Linked DNA regions of Homo sapiens: region 1 is linked to region 2. Evidence: fine-mapped expression QTL. Tissue or cell type: subcutaneous fat. Region 2 holds a variant in brackets; the other region holds the start of a gene. All regions are shown on one strand. Distances are between the middles of the regions.

Region 1 (8,186 bases), 44 kb after region 2:
CCCTTCAGGAATGAAGGTTTGGGTCACTCCACCAGGAAAAAAAACCATGACCTGCTGAGGTGCTTGCTGAAGGCAAAGTGAATACAGAATGTGCAGGAGAAGAAGGTAGTCATTAATACCAACTACGACCAAGTGACCAGTTGCAGAAATGAGGACTGTAATTGTTGTATTTCCTCCTTCTTTTATTAAAAACATGTTTGTGATGTATACACTTGTACTAAGAAAACATCTGCATTTTATTTCCTTTATCATGTGACGTAAGATTTACTGACTTCATATCAGCATTTAAGTATTGCTACCTTTATGTAATAGCACTTGGGTTGGGGATTAGTGTGTTTCGGTTGCATGAACGATACTTGTATTATGTTAAGCATAATTATGACCTTATTGTCTTTATTTGAAGATTATGTATGATCTCAGGAGATGTGTATGGGTTCAAGTTGACAAGGGATGGAGTTGTGATGGTTAACAGCTAGGTCCAGCTAGGTGCCTGGCCCATGTTGAAGGCTTCCCATCCTGTGTTAACACAGTCACCAGAAGTCCCTAGCTCCAAACACTTGAAACGGACACTTGACAGCTGTTACCTCAAAAACATCATTTCATTTCTCTGAGCCTTTATTTCTGGATCAATACAATAATACTTCCCACCAGTAACAGTCGTTAAATTTAAAGAGAAAGTATTCAATGCTCAGTGTGCTCTGGGATTTTTATTAATGTGTCAACTTGATTGGATTGAAGGATGCAACGTATTGATCCTGGGTGTGTCTGTAAAGGTGCTGCCAAAAGAGATCAACATTTGAGTCAGTGGGCTGGGAAAGGCAGACCCCCCCCTTAATCTGGGTGGGCACCATCTAATCAGCTGCCAGCGAGGCCAGCATATAAAGTAGGCAGAAATACATGAAAAGACTAGACTGGCCTAGACTACCAGCCTACATCTTTCTCCCATGCTGGATGCTTCCTGCCCTCGAACATTGGACACCAAGTTCTTCAGCTTTGGGACTTGGACTGGCTTCCTTGCTCCTCAGCTTGCAGACAGCCTACTGTGGGACCTTGTAATCATGAGTTATTACTACTTAATAAACTGTCCTTTTTATATATATCTATTCTATTAGTTCTGTCCCTTTAGAGAACCCTAATCCAGGTGGCCACTCTTGTCTTGAACTCACTAAGGCAGAAAAAGCCATAGAGAATAGACGTGACATGAGCAGACCCAGACAGAGAAGCCAGGACACCATCGTGGTGGTTCTCAGTTCCTACACCAGCCCCTCATGAGGCACAGCTGAAAATTACCTTTGAGTTTGCAAAACACCCCATTTCCTTTTACCACCTTCTCCTTTGGCTGGGAGCCAAAGAGTACCCTGTCTTTAGCCCAGAGATATAGGAGACCAGATAGGAAGAGGTTACTGTGGAAAATGACTAAAGCTGTGGGAAAGAGGCAAGGTAGATTCTAGAGGCCTTCTTGTGCAGCCAGGCCTGGAGTCAGAAGATGGAATGAAGGAAGTGGCAGGTCACCTGCATGGTGGAGGGGGAAGGAAGGCCTTACCCAGAGACACCAGGAGCCCACAGTTTTCCAGCATCACCTCCTGGTACAGGGTCCGCTGAGCTAGGTCCAGCTGCCCCCACTCCTCCTTGGTGAAAGTCACAGCCACATCATCAAAGGTCACAGACACCTGGAAAGTCAAACAGAATTAGTAGTATTGGCCTTTCAGCTGCTGAATGAGATCACAGACTGTGCTCCACTGGAAAAGGTGTACAGTGATGGCGGCCTGAATCACAGAGCACCTCCTGAGGGCCTAGCTCTGTGCTGGGCTCAAGAGGGAAGATAGATGCTTTTAACATAATACCAGAGTAAAGGAGAGAAGCCTCCTATTTAACGGCCGTTAGAGAATGACACAGGACAACGGAAACAACTTGTGGACTGTGAAATACAGAAGCTAAGGGCTCTAAAACGACAGGGAAATGGGGAAATGGTAATAATAGCAATAATGGTTACAACGGCAGTACCTGAGTCTCACTGGTCCAGCTAGGTGCCTGCCCCATGTTGAAGGCTTCACATCCTGTGTAAACACAGTGACTAGAAGTTCCTAGCTCCAAACACTTGAAACTGACACTTGACAGCTCTTACCTCAAAGACAGCATTTCATTTCTCTGAGCCTTGATTTCTGGATCAATACAATAACACTTCCCACCAGTAACAGTTGTTAAATTTAAAGTATTCAATGCTCAGTGTGCTCTGGGATTTTTATTAATCCTTTCACAGTCCCTGCAGTCAACACCATCATCACCTTCACAGTCAATGACTTCATGCTAAGGAAGCGCTATCAATTCACCCAGTCACACATCTCACCACCATAGATAGGATCTAAACATGGGGTTACTATGATTCACGGTCTAACAGTGTAACTCCAACACTCCCCCAACATCAAAGCAAATCTAATGCGATGAAGTTATAAGCATTTCCACTCATTTCTAACATTAAGTCTATTTCAATTAGCCCTGAAAAACGTATCTGTGGGCCGGGCATGGTGGCTCATGCATGTAATCCCAGCACTTTGGGAGGTCGAGGTGGGCGGATCGCTTGAGGCCAGGAGTTGAAGACCAGCCTGGCAAATATGGTGAAACCCAGTCTCTACTAAAATACAAAAATCAGTCAGGTGTGGTAGTGCATGCCTGTAATCCCAACTACTCGGCAGGCTGGGGCAGGAGAATTGCTTGAACCTGGGAGGCAGAGACTGCAGTGAGCTGAGAGTGCACCACTGTACTCCAGCCTGGGCGACAGAGTGAGACCCTGTCTCAAAACAAAAAAAAGTATGTGAACACGGGCACAAAAAGCTCAGCATTCCTCACTGACCCCACAGAGCGGCACTGGAAGGGCTGCATCTACTTGGGGAACGACAGGCTCCAGACCAGCTTCCCATGCCCTCTGGGATCTCCCTGGGTCTCCCAGATCCCCCAAGGAAATTCCACAATGAACCAACCATCGGCCTCTTTCCTTACTGGGTTCCGACAGAACTTGTCTCTGACGCCAGGATACTTTGGGGCCACGGAACACGAGCGGCCAAGGATAATGCAGGCTGTAGCGATGAGAGTAAGGGCATCTGACTGGCCACAATGTCTGCAGTAGTTGCGGATGGCTAGAACATCCAGGAAAAGACCACACACTGTTGCCCTCCACGTCTCAGCGGCCGCAGGAAAACCATGGCAACCTTACACACCCTCCTGAGCCTCCTTAAACATACAACATACCTTGTCTCTGCTCGCGCATTTGTCGGCTTGCTACTGCCCTGCCCTCCCCTTCCCCCCTCAGGCCCCCAATTCATGCTGGAATGAGACCTGGTCCACCAGAGAATGCTTGCAGGCCAAGGATGATGGGAGTCCCCAGAGGAAGCATCATTCACTCAACAACCTACGGAGCTCCTTCCAGTAGGCCCAACACTCCTTACGGCCAGGTATAAATTAAGTGGCAAACCAGCTCCACACACCAAAGCGAACGACGACTGCGAAGACAAATCCAGGGGATACCTGGGCTCCCACCCACTTCGGAAACCGCCTCAGCGCTGGCAAGGAAGCGGCAACCGCGAAGCCACCGTCCACTCACCTGGGCCCGGTCCGTCAGCACCGCTGCCGCCATCACGTCACCCCCTGGGCCGCAGAGCTGGGACAGAGGAGCCCCGGGCGGCCTGACGGACCCCACCTGTGCCCGACCCTGGCCGGTTGCCCGGGGCTTCCAGGCGCGCTCGGGGCCGCCGCCTCCTCGGTGGCAACGGCGTTCCAGACGCAGGGCCGCCGCCTCCTCGGTGGCAACCGCGTTCCAGACCCAGGGCGCCGCCCCTGGAGACCGCGGGGCTGAAGGGCGGGGGAGGAGAGACCGCAGCTTGACGGCGACCCAGGAACAAACCCACGGAAGGGGTCAGGCTCGTACAAAGGTGCGGCGGGGATTCCTATCCTACTCCCCTGCTCGGTCCTGACTAGGGACCTGCAAAGCGGCCCCGACCGGGGCCCTCAGTGGCTACAGACCTCTCCAGACAGAAGTGCAGAAGAAAATGGCGTCCGCAGCGAGCAACCCGGAAGTCCCGCCCCCACCGGCGTGAGCCGTCGGAAACGTCCCCGTCCTAGGCCGTCGTTGGCCCAGCTCCCGCCGTACGCATAATGCACAGCCTTCTAAGTAGTGTAGTTTTCCTCATGTGTTCAACAACGGGAGGAACGCTTCACGGCGCAAGTTTTCCTCCCAGGGAAAGGCACTCCAGGACCCGAGGAGACGCTCCAGACCCACCTCTTTACGGTGGGCACAACTCGAGGGGAAGGATGGAGGGAGGGAACCGAGGGGCAAGGGTTACATTGCATTCTTCTCTCGGGAAAATCGGAGCTCGGGAGACAGGGACTTTCCTTCAGGTCAGGGCACAGGCAAAGGCGCAGAACTGGGTCCTCAGCTCGCCTGGCGACTGACCCCCTTTCACATCCCTCCTCCCCGGATCATCATCTTGGAAGACACAAAAAAGCCGAATGATCATCTGGAAGCCCTGCCCCGACACGTTGTGTGCGCAAACTGCCCTCTTTTGAGCCTTCTTTGGACCAGCACAGCCTCTACGTGATGCAGGGAGTCATGTATTTGGCCCAGACCACACAAAAAGTGGATTTGCCCACTTCTGAGGTGGGGAGGCTGCAAGTGGAGGAGGTTCGGAGGCTCAGGATGGTTAGTTTGAAATGTCTACAGAACCACAAAGTATCTCTGTCACAGGCAATTCGACTTACGACTGAATGTTGGAAGAAGGTTTGAGCATGAATATATGAATTTAGGAGTTACCTTACACTGTTATTTCAAGTCATGATATTGAGTGAGACCATCAAGGCAATGCATGTAGATGGAGAAGAAAATACACAGAGCATGAGCCGGGGACCAAGTCTACATCATTAAATGGTTGATGACAATATTACCAGAAAGGCCAGGTCCTTGCATCTAGATCCTGCTGCTTGCTGCACAGAAGGCCAGTCAGCAAGACAATGAGTATTGTCAGGGATGAAGGCTTTATTCGGTGCTGCAGCTGAGGAAAATGGGAGATCAATCTCAAATCTCTTTCCTCAACTGACTAAAACTAGGGGTTTATACATCAGGGAAGAAGTGTAACTATGTTTGAGAAAACAGGAATTAGGAAGGGGTAAGGAAGAGGAATGGGTCAACAGGCAGCAGATGGTCAGTTAGGCAATCATCATGGGTAAGGGGTATAGCATCTCGTTTTTCCAGATGTGGTAATCCAGTAAGTTTCAGTTTCTTTATACTATCTGGGAGGCCTGATGCTTGGTTTCCTGAGAAAGGAAATCAGATAAGACAAATAAAAGTGTCTCGAGTTTTAGGAAGGGGAGGCTCAATGTCTATAATGTGTTGATTCAAAAGAAACCATAAATATCAGTTCTATGGGACACTGGAGCTGGTTTCAGTTCCCTGTTTCTATTTATCAATTCCTCAATCATGGGGAATCTGGACGTGATCTTTCTGGCTGCTTTATGCTGAGGAGGGGTATTGTGGGTGGCTGCATACCATAGATGACCACGTGGCCACTCAGATTAACTCAAAGGTTAATCTAACGCTATAGTTTTCTTTCTTTCTTTCTTTTTTTTTTTTGAGACAGAGTTTTGTTCTTTCACCTAGGCTGGAGTGCAGTGGCACGATCTCCGCTCACTGCAACCTCTGCCTCCTAGGTTCAAGCGATCCTCCTGCCTCAGCTTCCCGAGTAGCTGGGATTACAGGTGCCCACCACCATGCCTGGCTAATTTTTGTATTTTTAGTAGAGACGGGGTTTCACCATGTTGGCCAGGCTGGTCTCAAACTCCTGACCTCATGATCCGCCCACCTCAGCCTCCCAAAGTTGAGCCACTGCACCTGGCAGCACTATAGTTTTCTTTGGAAACAGTTTTTCTCTCTCTAGTCCCTGACTTCCATCAAAAGCAAATCACAGCAGGAACAACTTACCTGCAAAACAAGCTTCAGTCCCACCATACTTATCCAAACTACAGCAAGAATCACTGTTTATACAATTCCTCCTAAATTGGCTTTGCTGGAACCCCTCATAAGGAATCTCTCAGACTCAACACCCAAAGACCTCTTAAGCCCAGCCAAAGATCTGTCTGCACCTGTACATACCTGCATGAATTGGGTGAAACCCGTTTTTCTTGAGGCCCCAGAACATCTTGAGGTTCCTAGGCCTATCAGAAAATGACACTGTATTTACTACAGGCCAGGAACCCCACAAAGGAACTGTGTGCACAAGATATGAGGCCAGTCCTTCCAAGGGCTCCCATCAGCTCCATAAAGTCAGTCTTTTTTTTTTTTTTTTTTTTTTTTTTTGAGACACAGTCTTGCTCTGCCGCCCAGGCTGGAGTGCAGTGGCGTGATGTCAGCTCACTGCAAGCTCTGCCTTCTGGGTTCGCGCCATTCTCCTGCCTCAGCCTCCTGAGTAGCTGGGACTACAGGCGCCTGCCACCACACCCGGCTAATTTTTTATATTTTTAGTAGAGATGGGGTTTCACCATGTTAGCCAGGATGGTCTCGATCTCCTGACCTCGTGATCCACCCGCCTTGGCCTCCCAAAGTGCTGGGATTACAGTCATGATCCACCACGCCTGGCCCATAAAGTCAGTCTTAATTCCTCAAAGCAGTCTCGCATAGTTAAAAATATGCCATTCCTGTCAAAGCCTTGGGAAAAGACCCAGTGCCTACAATTGTGTTATAAAATAATATGGATTTTAAAAAATAGAGATAGGGTCTTGCTTGTTTACCCAGACTGGAGTGTAGTGGCACGATCATAGCTCACTACAGCCTCAAACTCCTGGGCTCAAGCGATCCTCCTGCCTCAGCCTCCCAAGTAGCTAGAAAACAGATTCTTATTGAACATATGCTACACCTAGCTAGAAAACAGATTCTTATTGAACATATGCAAACAACCACATTGCCGTGAATTAAGAATATTCACAAATAGTTTCTGAATTCTGGAGAAATCAGGCAGAGAGAGAAATAGCCCTCAAATTTTGTTTACAAATGTATATTCAATTGTTAAAGGCTATAAATAGCTGGAAAGAAAAAAGTTTCATAGAGACAGAAAGTAGATTTACAAAAAAAGTTCTCCTGACTCAAAAACAAAACAAAAAGAATCAGCAATGTTTCAAACACACACAAAAAATAATAAAATAAATTCAGTACTTGAAATAAATCTCTGTGTTTGTGTGTGTGTGTTCCATTTCTCCCTAATTCCATTTCTCAACTGCATGAATCCTTAACTCATGAAAGATACTTTTTACCCTCTTGGCTCCACAGTTAATGGAGAAAAAAAAATCATCAACAGTGACTTCTAAGATGGCTTAATATACTATATAATAAAATATTTTTATTTATCATGAAATAAATTAGTACAGTCCATGAAACTCCTGCTCTGCTTCATATTGCATAAACATATGTATACATAATTATGTATTTTATGAATATATCAGCCTTCTAATTAGAGTCCTGGAAGTTTTCTCTCTAGGCTGATAGGACAATCTCCAAAGTTACCAGAAACTTGAATTCAAGTGTTCTTTTTATGAACTCTCTCAAAGAAGCCCTGAACTGTAGCTGACTGTAAGCCACCTTTGGAGAAGACTCAAAGTCAAACAATAATTGTGGATGACAAAAGTCTTAGGACAACCATAGTTAAAAAACAATGGACAAGGAAATTTGGTTATTTCTGTGACAAACGATTATGACAAATGTACTTTTCTCAAGTTTTAAGAGTGGGAGGGTCAATTTCTAGGTTCAGTCAAAAGAAACCACAAACATCAGTTCTATGGGACAACTGGGTTGGTTTTCACAAGAAACTGACAAGCTCACATTAGGAGTTCTAACTGTCCTCCCAGAAAGGTATATTAAGCAATCTTAGAAGTCACTATTGATGATTTTTATTTTCCATTAACTGTAGAGTCAAGAGGATAAAAAGTATCTTTCATGAGTTAAGGATTCATGCAGCTGAGAAATGGTATTAGGGAGAAATGGAATACACACGCGCGCACACGCGCACACACACACACATATTTTACTGCAAGAAATGGGGGTGGTGTGCGGTGGCTCATGCCTGTAATCCCAGCACTTTGGGAGGCTGAGGAAGGAGGATTGCTTGAGTGTAGGAGATCGGTCAGAGTGGTGGGAGAAGCTATAAGAA
Region 2 (8,186 bases):
GTATATATACGTATATATATGCACATATATATTTATATATATATTTATATATATATTTTTTGAGACAGGGTCTCGCTCTGTTGCTCAGGCCATAGTGCAGTGGCGCGATCACAGCTCACTGCAGCCTCAAACTCCAGGGTTCAAGTGATCCTCCCACCTCAGCCACCCAAGTAGCTGGGACTGCAGGCACGCACCACCACGCCCAGCAAATTGAGGGTTTTTTTGTTTTGTTTTGTAGTTTTTGTAGTCAGTTTCACCATGCTGCCCAGGCTGGTCTTGAACTCCTGTGCTCAAGTGATCCACTCACCTTGGCCTCCCAAAGTGCTGGGATTACAGGCATGAGCCACAGCATCCAGCCTACTCAAAAAAAATTTTTAATTAGCTGAGCATTGTGGCACACCCCTGTAATTCCAGTTACTCAGGAGGCTGAGATGGGAGGATCTCTTGAGCCCAGGAGGTCGAGGCTGCAATGACCTGTAATTGCACCACTGCACTCCAGTCTGGGCAATAGAGCAAGACCCTGTCCAGCTGGGACATGTTGCAAATGCATTGTCTCTCTTGGGCCTTCTTTGGCCAAGCTTGGTCTTCACATGGTCCAGCAACTTTTGCTTTAGGTATTGGCTGAGAGCCCTGGTAGAGTAGATTTGACATTCCTTAACGTGGGGAGTCTTGGACTGGGTGAGCTCATGACTCCAACTTTAAGCATGATCAGTTTGAAATGTCTGTATGACCACAGAGTGTCTGTGTCACAGCAGTTCAATCTCTGACTGAATATTGGGAGAGAAGTTGTGCCTGGACATAAAAATCTGGAAGTTTTTGGCAAACACTGTTATTTCAAGTTATGATACTGGACAAGACCATGAAAAAAAATGAGCATAGATGGAGAAAGGAATGGAAAGAGGTGAACATTGTTAAACAAAAATTACAGGAGGCCATTGTTTTGGAGCTCCTACAGCAGGCCTCACTGACCAAATCAAAATGGCGTCTCTCATACTAAATGTCATCTAATCAAACTGAAGTTTTAAGGAAGCAGACAGATCCCAGTTTTTCCTAAAAGCAGATTTCAGTCTACCTGAATTAGTGAAATTAGGAAGTCCCCTCTGCTTTAACCCTTAGAAAAAGTAATCTGTTAACCAATCAGCTTTTTTTTCTATTGTTCTATTTTATTGTTCCCACCTTACAAAACCCACTGTTCTGCCATTGCCCAGTGGGAACTCTAATTTCTATTGTGTAGAACAGAGATTGCCTCAATTCATGAATCACAAACAAAAGTCAATTAGATCTAAAACTAAATTTGTTGTAATTTTGGCCTTTTGACAACCCTGAACTAACTGGTTGCAAACAAGAAAGCAACAAAGTCATGTTAGGGTCATAACAATCTTTTAAGAATTATACAGGCCGAGTGCAGTGGCTCACGGCTGTAATCCCAACACTTTGGGAGGTAAAGGCGGGTGGATCAGCTGAGGCCAGGTGTTTGAGACCAGCCTGGCCAACATGGTGAAACCCCGTCTCTACTAAAAATACAAAAATTAGCTGGGCATGGTGGCGGGTTCCTGTAATCCCAGCTACTTGGGAGGCTGAGGCAGGAGACTCGCTTGAATCTGGGAGGCGGAGACGGCAGTGGGCCGAGATCGGGCCAGAGAGCAAGATTCCGTCTCAAAAAAAAAAAATCATATTATACAAAACCTTTGTAGTCTCCGTTGGTGACTGTTTTTTTTCTTCTCATGACTATGAAGGTTAGAGAATAAAATCCAGCTTTCAATGATTTGACAATACATATGGTTATGAAAATGGAAACAAGGTGTGCAGAAAATGCCCTCCAGAGATTTGAAAGTGGAGAAAGTATCATGACAGGATGTTAACTGGGTGGAAATGTAGATGGAATCAATTTTCTAGAAGGTATTATTTGTAAAATGAGATTATTGAGAAATGTTGCTTAATTAGCGTGCAAGCTGTTGACACTGTTACTCATCATTGACAATACTAATTTGCCCAATTTAGAAGAGAGGAATAATTCTCCTTTCCATATGTGTATGACCCGTAGGGTTAAATTAGTTTTCGCTTTGGATGCAGAACAGATATTAAAGTTAGTATATTTATATTCCATCATGGAATGTCTGGAATCAGTGCTGCTGAAGAAAGCTATGTAGATATTGGTGACAATTTTTTTTTTTTGAGACAGAGTCTCACTTTGTTGCCCAGGCTGGAGTACAGTGGCGCAATGTCGGCTCCCTGCAACCTCCACCTCCCAGGTTCAAGTGATTCTCGTGCCTCAGCCTCGCAAGTAGCTGGGATTACAGCCACCATGGCCAGCTAATTTTTGTATTTTTCAGTCAAGACAGGTTTTTACCATGTTGGTCAGGCTGGTCTCGAACTCCTGACCTCACATGTTTATCTGCCTGCCTCAGCCTCCCAAATTGCTGGGATTACAGGTGTGAGCCACTACGCCCGGCCTGGGGACACTTTCAAATCCCTCATGTAAAGCATGACAGAGTTTTCATTATTTAAACATATATCATCTGGTGATCAGTGCTGAGGCCCTAGTGATTTTTCTATCCTTACCTGCCAAAAATGTGCCCAGTGATGTGTTTATCCAGCACCTAAAATGTGTAAGAGTTTATATGTGTGAACCAGTTAATTTATTAGGAATTGCCAAGTGTTTAAAATGTTAATTCAGGAAAACTGATAGGATGAAGCAAAGCATATAGAGGTAAGCACTGTGTCTCCCCATGCAGGTAAAAGAAAGAAAAAACAAAAAAGAGGTAAATACTGAAAGTGCAGGTTAAAAACCATGAACCAATGTCTTGGAGTATTTAACTTATAGATCTGCAATAGTGGGAGCTTTTCATCCAAGTGAAGTGGCTGAGTTATTTATGCTTACGTAGTGGGTCTGGTCATAGCAGAAATCATGCCTGCAACTGCTGGATATTTCACAATGAGGAGACTTTGTAGAATATAATGATAGGAGTAACATTAACAAGGCAAACTCCATATAAAGTGCTTAACAACTAAAGTTAGGAGAAATACTGGTGTAACTGACTGCATTGATCAAAAAACATTTGAGCTTACAGCTGAGGAGTCTAGATGCTTACTGTGGTAGTCAGTTTATAATGGGTGCAGGGAGCAGCTGCCACATGAAGCTGTCACAGAAGGTTACAGAAGGCTGGAAGGCCACTCCCCAAATTGCAGCATGCAGTAATTTCAGAAGAGGTGATATTACATTTATTATGAGGAATGACTTATTCTAATGTCATCAGAGTGCAACACAACACAGAGGTGCTAGTGTATTCACTTAAGAAGTGGGTTGCACTGACGTGCAGTGAAACATTTTATTTCTGAGACAGCAGCATATTGATGTCCATAAAAAGAGAGTGGACCTTTGGGTTGATGACAGTCCTGTTTTACAAATGGCATACTCCTGAAAACATGGAGAATAGTAAGTTGGATCAAGGAGCCACTGTGATAGGTGGCAGGTTTATGTACCCTCAGGGAATTTATCTGCAGAAAGTAGACAAGAGTTTTCTTTCTTTTCTTTTGAGACGGTGTCTCACTCTGTCTCCCATGCTGGACTCCAATGGCACGATCTCAGCTCACTGTAGCCTCTGCCTCCCAGGTTCAAGCAATTCTCATGTCTCAGCCTCACAAGTAGGTGGGATTATAGGTGCCCGCCACAACGCCCAGCTAATTTTTGTATTTTTAGAAGAGACAGGGTTTTACCATGTTGGCCAGGCTGGCCTTGAACTCCTGAACTCAAGTGTTGCGCCTGCCTTGGCCTTCCAAAGTGCTGGAATTACAGGCGTGAGCCACCGTGCCTGACCTGAAAGTAGGCAAGAGTTTTCAGAAGAATGAAGTCACCATCTCCCGAGGTGGAAGGTGGGGGTAGCAGGGAGAACAACCTTGGGCAGCTCTCATGGGAAAGAGTTCCCACAAGAAATAAAGATTCTACCCAGTCACATAATAACTCACACAACTATGAAGAGCTGGTATGAAATGATTCAGCTTTTATTAATTAGCATCTTACATCTTAAAAGAGAAAAAAATAAAGACAAATGAGGTGGCAGAGCCAGGAGAGCTCCCTGAACACACACAAAGGGAACAGAGGCAGACAGGGCTCAGGAAGCCATCTGAGCACAGGGAGGCAGCACCCTTCGGGAGTGGGCCTGAACCCAGGGGTGCTTCAGGATCTGGGCCAGGGGCAGTCTCTCCAAGGGCTGGTATCTGAGAAGCCTGGAAATCAAGTCCCGGGCCCCCAGAGGCATTGATAGTGGAAACCTCACATCTACCTGATGAGGCCAGGAAAGAAGAAAGAGAAGTCTGGTTAATTTCTTTGATCAATGTCCTCCCTCTTCTTTGAGCCTTGTTAAGGCGCTGTTCTGGACCACAGAAGACAACCCTGTGTGTGTGTGTGCCCACAGCCCAGCAGCCATCACTGACCAGCTCCCCCATGAATGCCCAAAGGTGACTGTCCCACCTTGAGGATGCGTCTGTAAGTCTCACTGTGGGAGGCGCTCTCAAAGGGTGGATATCCCACCAGCAGCTCATAGCAGAGCACTCCAATGCACCACAAATCCACCTTTTCATCATATGTTCTCCCCTCAATCATTTCTGGCGGCAAGTAGTCCAGTGTCCCACACATTGTCTTCCTCCTAGAGGAAGGCAGAAAAGGGAATAAGTACTAAGCAGAGGCCCAGGATGAGGGAAATTCTCCTTCCCCAGCTTTCATTGAGATGTGGAGACCCTAGGACACCCTGGAAAGTCCCTCCCAAGCACAGGAGTTTGGAGAGACAAATTTTTAATATGGATCAAGGTTCAGAAAAGTACTGGGGCCTACTATTAATAAATCCATATTTTGGAATTATTCACACAGTGATTTAGCTCATGCTCCAGAATGTTTTCACAAGAATATTCTCAGCATTAAGAAAGATCTAGAACAAACTGATGGTGTATCAATGAGAGCCAAGTAAATAAATTATGGTAAGAAAATTTCTGTATGAAAATCATTCATACAGAAAAATGCACTCCTTTGGAATTGTGGAGCAATGACTTTATTTACATGCAAACTTACTGGTATAGTTATATATTAACAAAGATCAGAAAA[T/C]AAAAGGTTTGATTGGACCACATTATTTAAATCTACGAATACATATCAAGTATAGGTGTTTGAAAATGGCAGCATTGGCCAGGCATCGTGGCTCATGCCTATGATCCCAGCACTTTGGGAGGCCGAGGCAGGCAGATTACCTGAGGTCAGGAGTTGGAGACCAGCCTGACCAACATGGTGAAACCCGTCTTTACTAAAAATACAAAATCAGCCGGGTGTGATGGCCCATGCCTGTAATCCCAGCTACTTGGGAGGCTGAGGCAGGAGAATCGCTTGAACCTGGGAGGGGGAGGTTGCAGTGAGCCGAGATCACACTATTGCAATCTAGCCTGGGCAACAAGAGCAAAACTCTGTCTCAAAAAAAAAAAAAAAAAAAAAGAAAAGAAAAAGGCAGTAGTTCAGCCAGGCATGGTGGCTGACGCCTGTAATCCCAGCACTTTGGGAAGCCAAGGTGGGCGGATCACCTGAGGTCAGGAGTTCGAGACTAGCCTGGCCAACATAGCAAAACCCTGTCTCTACTAAAAATACAAAAATTAGCCGAGTGTGGTGGCACATGCCTGTTATCCCAGCTACTTGGGAGACTGAGGCAGTAGAACCGCTTTAACCTGGGAGGCCGAGATTGTGCCCCTGCACTCCAGCCTGGGTGAAAGAGTTAGACTCTGTCTCAAAAAAAAAAAGAAAAGAAAAGAAAAGAAAAAGGCAGTATTCCAATAGAAACCCCAAGTTCGTATCTAGGTTTTACACATGGACACATGAAATACATTAAACTGGGTCATTCCTAACTGGTACTCAGAACTCACCCTACCACCACCACCTGACCTACCTCAGGGAGGGGGTGTGCACAGACCAGCCAAAATCTGCAATCTTCACCTCACCCCTGAACCCCAGCAGCAGGTTCTCTGGCTTAATATCTCTGTGAATCACTTTCTTGTCATGGCAGTAGGTCAGGGCATCTGCCAACTCCTCTATTATCTGTGGGTGCAAAGAAAAGTCACCCTGGAAGTGAAGCCTGCCACAATTTCCGTCTGAGGTGGAACACTTACCATGAATTGTATGATTACAGTGGAATCTTTTTGGTCCAGTAACTCCATTTCCTCCTTTTAAATTGCACCAGTTACTGGTGTGTGGGGTGTGGTTTTCCTCTCCTTTTTATGTGGTCTTATAGGATGGATGGTAACATGGACACAGATCCTCCCTGTTGTCCTAGCACAGCAAGTAGCCAGACATAGAACCTACATTGAGCCACTCAGATGATCTCTCACAGGACTTGAGGCCCGAGGAAGTGAAACAGAAACAGGAGGAAAGATGGAAGACCACTCATCCTGACACAGCAAGCTGATTGGACCATTGCTCCTGGGAAAATCATTGCCATGGTTCCCTTTCCGGAACCCTCTAGAAATCTCTTTGTACCTATCTCTAAGCCAGTTCTAGCTATTTATTCAGTGAACTCCTTCAGAGCCTTTCAATATGTTTCTTTACATAAGGCAGTGGAGTTAGATTCTGTTGCTTATAACCAAAGAATCCAAACCTATACGCAGTACTTATTAATATTCTGGAGATACAATGAGGTTAATTAGGGTATCCAAGGATAAAGCTGTAGAACATACGTGCCATTATATTAAATTTACACAATAACATTCAGAAGTAAACTTCTCAGAAGGCAATGCGGACCCTCCTGACAGCCACAAACAGAGCTCCCACCAGCCCACAGTAAACTCAGAGACCCCAGAGCCTCCAGACCCGCACCTCACCGTGGCTGTGCGCTGTTCATCTAATTTCTCGCTTTTCTGCAGCTCCTTGTAGAGCTCACCCCTTGGAGCATATTCCAGAATCAGGTACACCCGGCGTGCATCATGGAAATAGTTATACAGGCGCAGGATATTGGGGTGTCTGAAGGATTAATGTTGGAAGAGTCAGATTTCTCCCTGAGGCCTATCATATGATGCCACCGTCACTGCCTGGTCACACAAGTGGCAAATTATGCTGGGACCAGAATAACAACAGCCCTATCTGGGAGCAAGTGAGGGGAGAACGGAGAACAGGAACCAGGATTCGAGTGTCTGACCCAGGGTAGGAGGTAGTGTAAATGGAATGAACTGCAGAGAAGTCTTCAAGGTACAAGTGCAGGGTTTACTTGGGGTTAGTATTTGGGGAAAATGCTGGGCTCAGACGTCAAAGATGAAAGAGGAAGCAGAGACTGTCCTTACTGTAGATGAGCCTGGATCTCAATTTCCCGGCGCAGCTGGTGCTCCAGTCCTTCCTTCTCTATCTGCGACTTGAAGAGAACCTTCAGGGCCACAATGAAATGGCTTTCCTTGAGCCGAGCCAGGTACACATTCCCAAATTTCCCCTTGCCCAGGGGACGCCCGATTTCAAAGTCATCGACTGTGAGGCGCCGCCTGACAGGAGAGGAAGAAAAAAGCCTCAGCTTGGGAGGTAGGGTAGGCGGAGGGAAAGTCAGGGATGCCAATGCTCCCCTTCCTCTTTCATTGTATCCTTCCTCTGCCGCTTTCCCTTCTCACACAGACCCAGCCCTATCAGTAGTTCTCGTTCCCAGGAGCCAGCACCCCACACACCCAGTCTGTTCTTCATCCCCACGTCCCACCTTCCTTCCTTTTCCAGATACCAATCCCAAGGGACTCACATGGCTGGGCTGCTGGGCTGCTGGGCTGTTTGGTTTGCTGTAGCCACTGAAAGAGAGGAGGAGGAGGGAGATAGGAAGGGAGAGGGGAGGGAAGGAGAAGGGGAGAGAAAGAGAGGAGAGGAGAACAGTAGAGAAGGGAATAGGGAGCGAGAGGTGAGGGGAAGAAGGGGAGGAGAGAAAGAGAGGGAAGGGGAAGGCAGGGAGAGGGGGAGGGAGAGGTAAGGGGAAGAAGAAAGAGTAAGGTAAGGTAGGGAGGGGAGGAGGAGGTGAAGAAGAGGCAGAGAGAAAGGAAGGGGAGGAGAGAGTAGGGGAGGGAGAGGTGAAAGAAAGAATTGGAGGGAAGGGAGGGAGTGGGGAGAAAAGAAGAGCGTTGGGGAGGAGGAGAGGGAGGGGAGATGTCAACACATGTGTCTTCTGTGCACCCGACCCCTGGCCCAGTCCCCA

What was found. PIP is the estimated chance that this variant, and not a neighbour inherited with it, causes the effect.
Region 1: it holds the start of ZNF264, and the variant in region 2 is fine-mapped to the expression of ZNF264 in subcutaneous fat (GTEx, PIP above 0.99).

What each region holds. Positions count from the first base shown.
Region 1 is chr19:57,187,359-57,195,544 of GRCh38, reverse strand. ZNF264 (zinc finger protein 264) reads right to left here and starts at 4,045. Exons shown (of 4, transcript NM_003417.5): 1 at 3,599-4,045; 2 at 1,544-1,670. The coding sequence starts at 3,631. RefSeq lists a silencer at 3,530-3,799 and enhancers at 3,970-4,029, 4,040-4,129, 4,150-4,209.
Region 2 is chr19:57,231,344-57,239,529 of GRCh38, reverse strand. It overlaps AURKC (aurora kinase C), which reads right to left. Exons shown (of 7, transcript NM_001015878.2): 2 at 7,743-7,788; 3 at 7,306-7,497; 4 at 6,850-6,988; 5 at 5,922-6,070; 6 at 4,472-4,646; 7 at 3,982-4,283. The coding sequence ends at 4,113. Among named protein-coding and RNA genes, the nearest start is that of AURKC, 4.4 kb to the right of the region's middle. The variant T/C (reference allele first, on the strand shown) is at 5,099.